3 linked regions of the Homo sapiens genome follow. The protein of the gene in region 2 interacts with the protein of the main gene of each other region in a pairwise test. Each region holds a gene or a part of one and is shown on either strand. Other genes may lie near its edges. The genes, in order: MFSD6, SGPL1 and FAM177A1.

The links.
Region 1: the proteins of SGPL1 (region 2) and MFSD6 interact in binary tests that used the Homo sapiens proteins (3 or more experiments, as listed by UniProt).
Region 3: the proteins of SGPL1 (region 2) and FAM177A1 interact in binary tests that used the Homo sapiens proteins (3 or more experiments, as listed by UniProt).

The regions. Positions count from the first base shown.
Region 1 is NC_000002.12:190,411,320-190,415,073, reverse strand, and holds part of MFSD6 (major facilitator superfamily domain-containing protein 6), read right to left. Parts: intron 1-3,754.
Region 2 is NC_000010.11:70,818,851-70,822,604, reverse strand, and holds part of SGPL1 (sphingosine-1-phosphate lyase 1), read right to left. Parts: intron 1-3,754. UniProt on the Homo sapiens protein: Cleaves phosphorylated sphingoid bases (PSBs), such as sphingosine-1-phosphate, into fatty aldehydes and phosphoethanolamine. Elevates stress-induced ceramide production and apoptosis.
Region 3 is NC_000014.9:35,070,234-35,073,987, reverse strand, and holds part of FAM177A1 (protein FAM177A1 isoform 1 precursor), read right to left. Parts: intron 1-3,754.

The sequences.
Region 1 (3,754 bases), on a different chromosome or scaffold from region 2:
GATCAATAATAAGGACAGTTAAATAAGTTATGGTGAAAATAGGTAAATAAGCTATAGAGAAAAATAAAATCTTATATCCATATCATGGGAAAATAGAACTTAACTACATGGTAAAATGCATCATGTTAAATGAAAGAGCAGGACACAAACCTCTCGATATAGTACAGTTTATATTTGTAAATCTATGTAGCTCAAATAAAATGTATTTTAGAAAAAGACTCGATAAAAATGACACCAAAGTGTTATCAGGGATTATCTCTGAGTAGTAAAATTAGGACTTATTTAATTTTTTTCTTATACTTGGCTGGATTTTTAAAAAATCATTATTTATCACTTTAAAAATACATATTTAAAAAGGAATTATTTTAAATATAAAACATTTGAGTGACAATTAGGATGTCCTTGTTCCCGGAGTTCCTGAAAAATTATAGAGTTATTAAATTGAGGTCTGATCATTCATCTAATGCCTTGTGCTTCCCAGTATACGGAATTGAAAGGGACTGTCACAAGGACTTTGAGACACTCTTAAAAGATATGCACACCTTTTACAGGGAGCCTCATTACACAGAAAATAAAATTGAAATGTGTCATGTTTACTCATTCAAAAGAATCATAATAAAGTCTTTTATTTAAACTCCCTTATAAATGTGAATTGGGGCATATTTGTTCATTAGTTAAACACAATTGCACAGGCATGATTTTGAAATAGAATTAAGAAAGGCACTCCATAATAGCTAAAGAAGCTTGCCTTTGCTGGATTGGAGCACGTTAATCAAGAACACAGCGCTTCTTTATTTTATGTTCCAGGACACATGTGCAGGACATGTGGGTTTGTTACATAGGCAAACGTGTGCCATGGTGGTTTGCAGCACCTACCAACCCATCATCTAGGTATTAAGCCCCACATGCATTAGTTATTTATCCTGATGCTCTCCCTCCCCCTGCCACCCAACCCCCCAGACAGGCCCCAGGAACACAGTACTTCTTAAAAGTCATAGGCAGCATGCATGTCACTTTGTATGATTCTGCTTTATGTGTTTGGTGTGGTGCCTTCCTCCTTTGCTCTACCTTGAGCCAAGTACCTTGAGGCCAAGTATGTTCTACCTTAACTTTGTCCCTAAAAGTGCCCTGAACAGTTAAGAATTCCCAGCGTGACTCACAGGGACCCACTCCTGCCACTGCTCCAGTGCTCAGTTTCTCCTGGAATCCTGGGCCCTGACTGCCATGTCTCCTCTTCACCCCACAGTATAGCAGGGCTCATGGTACATTGGTTTATTGGAGCTCAGAGAGAGCAGGCCCCGTGCAGAGTGGAGTGCACCTGCCTGTGGAACAAGGTCTCTCTACATAACCAACACAGACTGCTAACTACCAGTCCAGGCTCGCCACTCACTTTCCTTTGGCACGGTTAACCCACACATCGGGCTTGTTCAGGCAGCACCAGTTCCTCCTTTTTATCCTCCTCAAAGCCACACACCAGAGCTCACTCTGCCCACTGCTGATTCATAGTGTCCCTGTCTTTCCCTGTCTTTCCCCCATCCCACTCTTGGTCTCAGATCAAAATGCTTCCAAACATTTCCTCAGAGTCATTCAGAGCTGGCCTTTCCTGTTTTGTACTTGCCAAATGTTTCCTGAATTGGTCTCCCATTCTAAAACATGCCCCACAACAAATGTCAAAGAAAGACATCTCTGCCCCCCTTAATTCAATTTTTTTCCACATCTCTTGAACATGGTTTTTTAAGGGTCTGAATTTCTTCCCATCTTTGCCCTATTCTCCCCCATTCTACCCCGCCCCTCCCATCCTAAAATGCAGCAGGACCACCAGGTCACAAGGTAATACAGAACTCTCACTCACATCTCTTCAACATAATCATCAACACGTGGCTCAGCTAGATTTACATCATAATGGATCAAGGCAGGGAGAGGCTACTTTGAATACATACAACATTGGGATGTAGTTTTTGTTGGTGCTGAGGTAGAGGTGGGGGTTTGGGAGGGTGTGCTCTTTTTAAAGCCATAACATAGCAACCAGTAACTATAGCAGACACATATTAACATATAGGCTCAAGGTTTAGGTGTTCCACGTTTGTAATTATTTATTATTTGGTTGGCTTTTCTGTTTTGGCCCCTGCACCAAACATCACTTGTCTGAACAAATGACTGGTAGATTCCAAAAGTTGCCCAGCCAACTTGAGACAATGCCATTTTGCAAAAACAGTAAATAAATATCATCCAAATGTGGGCAATCAAAAACAGCTACAAAGCAAATGTTACTGAATCCAGCAGTGGGGCTAAGTACTGGATAACGTATCATTCAGAATTTAGGAAAACAAATCAGGCTGACACAAGCCCCTCTCACCCCCAAAATGCCAGTAGAGTAAATGGGAACAGACAGCTAATGTTGGATAATTAAACATGGAGGAATTATAAACTCAAAGGAAATGTTCTTGGTGGAGGCATTAAGGTGTTTTCATTGCCCCACACAGAATTGACATCAGATGTGTTTGTTTGCTTTTCCCAGGAATCAAAAATGCTATGCCCAAGGAAATGCCATGTTAGTTGAGTTTGAGGAAGAAATTTTACCCAAACTGGCCTTGTAGTAGGGTAGGACTTTGCACTTGATTTCTGCCTTTAAAGATAACCTATTGAACAAAGTTTCCTAAATTAAAAGATGGAGATTTCCTTCTGCCTAAAACATAATTAGAACCCAAAATGAAATGTTGGATAATACCTAAAATTGTGAGAATATCTCTTCTGTAAAATACTTTTACAATTCCCTCTTTCTCAAGATTACCTACTACCACAATGATAATTAACCAAGTTTAAGCATGTGTTTTCTTGATTCTGAAAAGTCTGAATGTATTATGGCTCTGGATTTCTAAGTCTGGAAATGTATTAATTTTTAAGGATTCTAAGCAGTGGTTTTAGTTAATTTTACATAGAATTGGATAGAACTATGGGACTGTATTTAACAAGTACATATGCATCAGATTAGTTTAACTTTATGATAACTTGCTTCTCCTAAATTGTTACTAAAAATAATTATACCTAAAGTCATCCAGAATGCCATAATTTCATGAGATGACACAGCAGGTAAATTGGTTTCTCCAACTCCTACCTTCTACCAGATTGTTCTGTACAGAACAATCATGCTTCCAAAGACAGCCACCACTAGCAAGACCAGGAAGAAAGAAATTCTTATCACCCCTAATCAAGCAGATAAATTGTGTATGCTCCAAAGCATTCTTATTGAGGAGGAAAACTGAGGAGTTGTAGAATATGCTACAGTTACTATTAGAAAAAGTAAAAGCCAGTCACCTGAGACTCTTTACCCTTTGCCCCCCAATTCTCAGTATGCCACCTTTCACTTTGATCTCCTGAGTCTCATTTCACTTCCCTAACATTAGAGTTTAGGCACATTCAATTTTATCTTACTTTGGATTGTTATAAAATCAATTAATTCTAGTCTTCTTTTGTTTTCCTTTTTAGTTTATATAATAAGAGAACACATGCTTGTTCCAAAAACAAAATTTTAAGCCCAAACATAACTTTATAAGGTAAAAAGCAAAAACATCCTCTTTTCTCCATCTTGTCTCACTTCCTGAAGATAGCCACTGTCGGCTGGGCGCAGTGGCTCATGCCTGTAATCCCAGCACTTTGGGAGGCCTAGGCAGGGGAATCATGAGGTCAGGAGATGGAGACCATCCTGGCCAACATGATGAAACCCCGTCTCTACTAAAAAAATAAAAATTAGCTG
Region 2 (3,754 bases):
TCCCCTTCCCCCACAGCATGGTTTTTATCTCAGTAATTGGGTTCTGTACATTTACACATACAGACTGATTCACATCAATTCCCTATGGAAATTCTTAAACCCAGGCTGATTCTCAATTCTGCCACCAATGTGCACAAACTGTATATAATATTAGATTGGGTAAAACCTAATTAAGAAGGTAAATATTACTAAAAATTCCTGACACATAGACTGAAAAGCTAAGTCAAATACTGGGATTTGGATTCTATCTGTTTATAACCCTCTTTTCCTTTAAACCAAAGGCTGTGGAAATTATTACAGCTCTGTTTCATCTATAACACTGGGAGATTGCCAAATACAGTGTTCATCCTGCAATGGCCACTCAAATGTCAACAAATTTTTTAATGTCCTATCAACAATCCCAATGAATTTTCCCTTTCTTCTAGCAAATCCTACAAACAAGACACAAGGCTCAAATAATAGAACAGAGCTCCTAAGGTCAATCTTTCAGTTTATTGCTTAAATCCCACTTGAGATTCAGAAAGAAAGCATCCCTGAAAAAGAGTCAAGGGTCACAGATAAAGACGCTCAAGGACCTGGAAAGATTCAATTTTTGAACCCAAAAAACAAAACTGAGGGAAGCTTGCTGTTTGCAAATCAAGAAAAGAGTGGTGCAGAAATGTTGCAAAGGACAGCATTTCTTAAGAATTCTGCATTGCTATAAAAGATCAGCTGCACCATCTCCAATATATATTCCTGAGCAGCAAGGCTTGACCCATGGGCAAAATAACCCCAAGTGAGACAATAACAGACACGTTAACCTCCAAGAAGGGAATCACTCCCCCACCCATATGAAAGCATAGACTACACAGATATCCAGGTATCTATGGTAAGAAACTTCATACCAGTTTCTCAACCTCACCACTATTGACATTCTAGGCCAGATAATTCTTGTTTGCAGGAAACTGTGCGTTGTAAGGTGTTTGGTTGCATCCCTAGCCTCTACCCACTAGATGCCAGCAGAACCCTTCAGGTGTAACAACCCAAAATGTCTCTAGGCATTGTCAAATGTCACCCAGAGGGCAAAATTGCCCCTGGTCAAGAACCACTGCCCTAGATAAGCAATTATCACTCAAACCCCACCTAGCACTACCAGGGTGCACACGCTAACCTTGATTCATCTATGAATATCAGCTAATTTAGTCATCATTTTCTGATGAGAAAAGAAAAAAGCCACCTAAGGGGTAGACTGGCTTTATAAAATACCTTTTTCTTAAAAACTACAAATATTTGGCAACTTGCAAAGTGATACCACCCTCTAGCACCAAGGAGGAGAGTATGAATAAAAAGAATGGTTGCCAAGGGGGAGAAAGGCTGCTACAAAGCTGTCTGACTTGAATTCCCTCTGACATCATCACAACTCTCAGCAGATGAACATACTCATTTTATTCTCTATGAGACACAGGTGGAAAGTACTGCAGTCTATGACACATCACATACGAGCAAATGGAAAAAGGCAAGCAAACTATCCTAATCAAATGATAACAAAATTGAGGGCAGGAACACACTGAGGGCTGATAGCCCGAGCCTGTCAGTCTGGATTCAAGGCTTGTTATATGTGGACTCCAGGTCATCTCCAGGTTTTCTCTCACAGCATACTGTCCACACAAGTAGTCTTCAACTCTATGACCCAATGCCCTCTTTTTATAACAAATATTCTGTAATCCCTTTTGCTACTCTGACATGGCATTTAAAGATTATAACACTATGCCTGCAGATACAAGTTTTAAAATTTCAATATAATTCATTAAATGCGACGTAAAAGAAAATAAAACACAAATTTTTTTTTTTTTGAGACAGTCTCGCTCTGTCGCCCAGGCTGGAGTGTAATGGTGCAGCTTCAGCTCACTGCAACCTCCACCTCCCGGGTTCAAGCAACTCTCTTGCCTCAGCCTCCTAAATAGCCGGGAATACAAGTGTACGCCACCATGCCCAGCTAATTTTTGTATTTTTAGTAGAGACAGAGTTTCGCCATGTTGACCAGGCTGGTCTAGAACACCTGGCCTCAAGTACTCTGCCCGCCTGAGCCTCCCAAAGTGCTGGAATTACAGGCATGAGCCACCACGCCTGACCCAATAAACAAGATTTAATAATAATTTAATAATAAAACATGTATTTTCAGACTACACTAGAAGAAAAAAGACTCCCTCCTCCCCCAGTCCCCCATTGCCAAAGTGCCCCCTAGAGGGTGGAGCTATCCTATCCCATCTGCTCCACACAGACCCTCTCCCATCAGTCACAATGGTCAGCAACCTCTACCCTTACCAGGGGTAAGGACACAAAGTAGGCAAGAGGGAGGGATCTGAAGTCAGACCAACTGAGGTCAAACTTGGCTCCACCACTCAACTGCTGTAGTTACTCTCTATAAGCCTCGTTTTTCATCTGTAAAAGAAGGATACCAAAAGGTTTTTGTGAAAATTAAATAAGTACAGTATTCCTACACTTAACATGTAATACATGCTCAATAAATGTTAGCTATCAGAGTTAACATTACTATTCCTGAATCCACCTTGTATTGTTTCCTAGCTTTTGCTCACTTATTCCATTAGCAGAAAAGACGGGAGACTGGATATCCATTTACCAGAGATACTCTTCAACAGATTCATGTATAATATAAGCTGCATCACAGGCCAGGTACAGTGGCTCATGCCTGTAATCCAGCACTTTGGGAGGCCAAGGCAGGCGGTTGGATCCCTTGAGCCCAGGAGTTAGATACCAGCCTGGGTAACATGGCAAACTACCATCTCTACAAAAAATAAATACAAAAATCAGCCGGGCATGGTGGCATGTGCCTGTCGTCCCAGCTACTCAGGAGGCTGAGGTGGAAGGATCATCTGAGCCTCAGAGATTGAGGATGCAGTAAGCTGAGATCATGCCACTGCACTCCAGCCTGGGCATCAGAGTGAGACCTTGTCTCAAAAAAAAAAAAAAAAAAAAAGCTGCATCCCATGACTTCTAAGACTATTTCTAATTCTGAGATGCTGCACTGCACTGAGGTTATTTTTTTATTCACTTAGGTCCTTTCTTCCCAGGTGGAGGGCCAAGAACATGTTTTACATATCATATAAAGTAGCTTGAGAAACACCTCATAGAATGATGGGTTAGTGTGCCACTGAAAACCCAGCCATGGTTATTGGTTCTTTACCAGTTAGTTCCAAATAGCATTATACATTACAGTCAAGGAATGAATGACAACTTTTCCAGTGAAAGCACTTCATGCAACATGTATGTTGTCTTCAGAAAGTGATGACTGCCTAGGGCCACTCGCATCTATGTGGATTAATTCCTTACAGCAACAAGCAAAGCAACACTCCTAAACATTCTAAATTAACAGGTGAGGAGGTGAAAGGTGGTGGCAACAGCTAGAGAAATACCTCAAAAGAAAACTGATTCCAAAGTTAATATTCCGAGTAAAAGCAGTCATTGTTCTGTTAAAGTAAATGCATAGGCCCTATAAGTAATAACCATATCTCTGTGCATGGGGAAATATCTTACATATAAGAACCTATAATTTACATAAACATATCCTTCTGTAAGAGGATAAACAGAAACTGTCAATTGCTACAAGTCACTCTGCATTAACCATCCAAGATGCTCACAGCGGTTATTTCTGGGTGATAAATTACTGCACGGGGTAGAGGCGAATGAAGGGGATGTAGGAGATAGGGGAGATTAACAAATCCCCTTTCCTTTTGCTTACTTATAGTTTCCAGTA
Region 3 (3,754 bases), on a different chromosome or scaffold from region 2:
GCTTCTGCCAAACAAAAGATAGCAGATGAGTTCCCACACATCATTAGGAAAATCATTGAGAAGAAAGGATATCTATCAGAACAGGTTTTTAGTGGAGATCAAAGTGCCCTATTCTGAAAAAACATGCCACAAAAGACATTTATTAGTAAGGAAGAGAGGCAAGCACCAGGATTCAAGGCAGAAAGGGATAGGCTAACTCTACTATTTTGTACAAATGCAGTCCGGTTTATGATTAGGACTGCCCTTATCTATAAAGCTGCTAGCCCCCAAGCCTTAAAGGAAAAAGATAAACACCAGCTACCAGTCTTTTGTCTGTACTTGTCAAGGCCTAGACAACAAGAACCCTTTTCCTGGATTGGTTCCATCAATGCTTTGTCCCTGAAGTCAGGAAGTATTCTGTTAATAAGGGACTGCCTTTTAAAATTCTTTTGTTATTGGACAATGCTCCTGGCCACCCAGAACCCCACAAGTTCAACACTGAAGGTGTCAAAGTGTTGTACTTGCCCCCAAACACAACATCTCTAGTTCAGCCTCTGGATCAGGGGTCATAAGGACCTTTAAGGCTCATTACACACAGTACTCTATGGAAAGCATTGTTGATGCCATAGAAGAGAACCCTGGGCAGTGTGGTGGCTTACGCCTATAATCCCAGTACTTCAGGAGGCTGAGGCGGGCAGATTACCTGAGCTCAGGATTTTGCGACCAGCCTGGGCAACATGGTGAAACCCTGTCTTTACTAAAATACAAAATATTAGCTGGGCATGGCAGCGTGCACCTGTAGTCCAGCTACTTGGGAGGCTGAGGCAGGAGAATTGCTTGAACCCAGGAGATGGAGGTTGCAGTGAGCCAAGATCACGCCACTGCACTCCAGCCTGGGTGACAGCGAGACTCCGTCTCAAAAAAAAGAAGAAGAAGAAGAAGAAGAGAACCCTGATAAAGAAAACATCATGAAAGTCTGGAAGGATTACACCACTGAAGATGCCATTGTTATAGAAAAAGCTGTGAAAGACATCAACACGAAACAAATTTCTGCTGGAGAAAACTGTGCCCAAGTGTTGTGCACATCTTCACAGGATTTACGACAGAGCCAATCAATGAAATCATGAAAGATATGGTAGATATGAAAGGAAAGGGGGGGTGGAGGGTGGAGCGTTTCAAAATTTGGATCTCGGAGAAATTCAAGAGCTAACAGACACAACACCAGAGATATTAACAGAAAATGGCTTGATAGAGATGAGTGCCTCCAAACCACTGCCAGATAATGAAGAAGATGTAAAAGCAGCAGTGCCAGAAAAGAAACTGACATTAGACAATCTGGCAGAAGGGCTCCGATTTTTCAAGACTACTTGACTTCTTTTACAACATGGACCCTTCTATACAGGCAATGAAACTAAAGCAAATGGTGGGAAAAGAACTGTTACCACCTAAAACAATTTTTAGAGAAATAAAAAAGTAAAACAGTCAGACAGAAATTACTACGTATTTCCATGAAGTCACAGCAAGTACGCCTTTCTCTCTTGCCTCCCCTTCCACCTCCTGCCATGCCTAACACAGCAAGACCAACCCCTCCTCTTCCTCCTCAGCCTACTCAATGTGAAGACAATGAGGAAGAAGACTTATGATGATGATCCACTTCCCACTTAATGAATAGTAAATATATTTTCTCTTCCTTATAATTTTCTTAACCCTTTTTCCTTTCCTTTCCCCTTTCCTTTCTTTTATCTTTTCTTTGTCACCCAGGCTGGAGTGCAATGTTGCGATCTCGGCTCACTGCAACCTCCGCCTCCCAGGTTCAAGTGATTCTCCTGCCTCAGACTCCCGAGTAGCTGGGACTACAGGTGCCCAACACCACATCCGGCTAATTTTTGTATTTTTAGTAGAGATGGGGTTTCACTATATTGGCCAGGCTGGTCTCAAACTCCTGACCTTGTGATCTGCCCACCTCAGCCTCCCAAAGTGCTGGGATTACAGGCATGAGCCACCACGCCTAGCCAACATTTTCTTTTCTATAGCTTACTTTATTGTAAGAATAGAGCATATAATACATATAACATAAGAAATATGTGTTAATTGACTTTATGCTCTAGGTAAGGCTTCCAGTCAACACTAGGCTATTAGCAATTTAGTTTGGGGGGAATAAAAAGTTATAGGCAGATTTTCAACTGTGCAGGGTAGTTGGGGGGTCACACCCCTAAACTTCACATTGTTCAAGGTTCAACTGTAAATATGTTTCTCAGTGGACCAATTCTCCTGGGGTTGTTTCTGGCGAGAATAATTGATAATATCCAAGCTATGACTACCAAAGAATCAAATCTGCTCCAGAGCTGAAAAACAGGTTAATAATTCCTGAATAACATTTATCATCATCCCACACAACTATACAGAATGAATATATAGGGCCCTTTGTTTGAACATTGACTTGATTGAATCAAAAAAAAGAAGTAGCTAGAGTCTATGCCAGAATTCCACCACCTAGACTATCCCAGTAATAGCAAAACTGGGACAAGATCTTGTGTCTTCAAGACTTCTTGTATATAGTGCTAAAACTCAAAATGATTCATTTTTCCTCCAAAAATATAAGTATCTCTTCCTTCCCTATTAAGACCTACTACCTTTTCTTATTAAAACAATTTATTTTCAGATTATAAAAGTCATATTTATTTGTTGTAGAACACTTAGAAAATGGAGGTCGGCCGGGTGCAGTGGCTCACGCCTGTAATCCCAGCACTTTGGGAGGCCGAGGAGGGTGGATCACGAGGTCAAGAGATCGAGACCATCCTGGCTAACACGGTGAAACCCTGTCTCTAAAAAAAAATACAAAAAATCAGCCGGGCGTGGTGGCAGGTGCCTGTAGTCCCAGCTACTCAGGAGGCTGAGGCAGAAGAATGGCGTGAACCTGGGAGGCGGAGCTTGCAGTGAGCTGAGATCGCACCACTGCACTCCAGCATGGGCAACAGAGCAAGACTCCGTCTCAAAAAAAAAAAGAAAGAAAGAAAGAAAGAAAATGGAGGTCAATATAAGAAAAATGTAATTCACCCATTTTCCACCACCTAGAAATAATTATCCAAATATCAGGGTACCTTTCCAGTCTTTTCCTGAGCATACACTTATTTTTACAACATTGTTGTCCCTTACATATTTTCTCTATCCTATTTTTCCACATGTATTATATCATATTAATATAATTATAATATTAAGCCTATTTACTTAATCTGCTTAAATTCCTAAAGGTGGAATTAACTAGGCCAAAAATATAATCATTTAGGAAGCTCTTCATTCACATTGCAAAACTTCACACTAGAAAATTTGCCTATAAATATGCAGTAGCAATGTATGTGATTGTCCATTAACTTGTAGCTCCGCCGGGTGTGGTGGCTCACGCCTGTAATCCCAGCACTTTGGGAGGCCAAGGTGGGCAGATAACAAGGTCAGGAGTTCGAGACCAGCCTGACCAACATGGTGAAACCCTGTCTCTACCAAAAATACAAAAATTAGCCAGGTGTGGTAGCATGCACCTGTAGTCCCAGCTACTTGGGAAGCTGAGGCAGGAGAATTGCTTGAATCCGGGAGGCTGAGGTTGCAGCGAGGCGAGATCATGCCACTGCACTCCAGCCTGGACGACAGAGCGAGACTCCGACGCAAAGAAAAAAAAAATATTGTTATAGGCCGGACACGGTGGCTCATGCCTGTAATCCCAGCACTTTCGGAGGCTGAGGCGGGTGGATCACGAGGTCAGGAGATCGAGATCATCCTG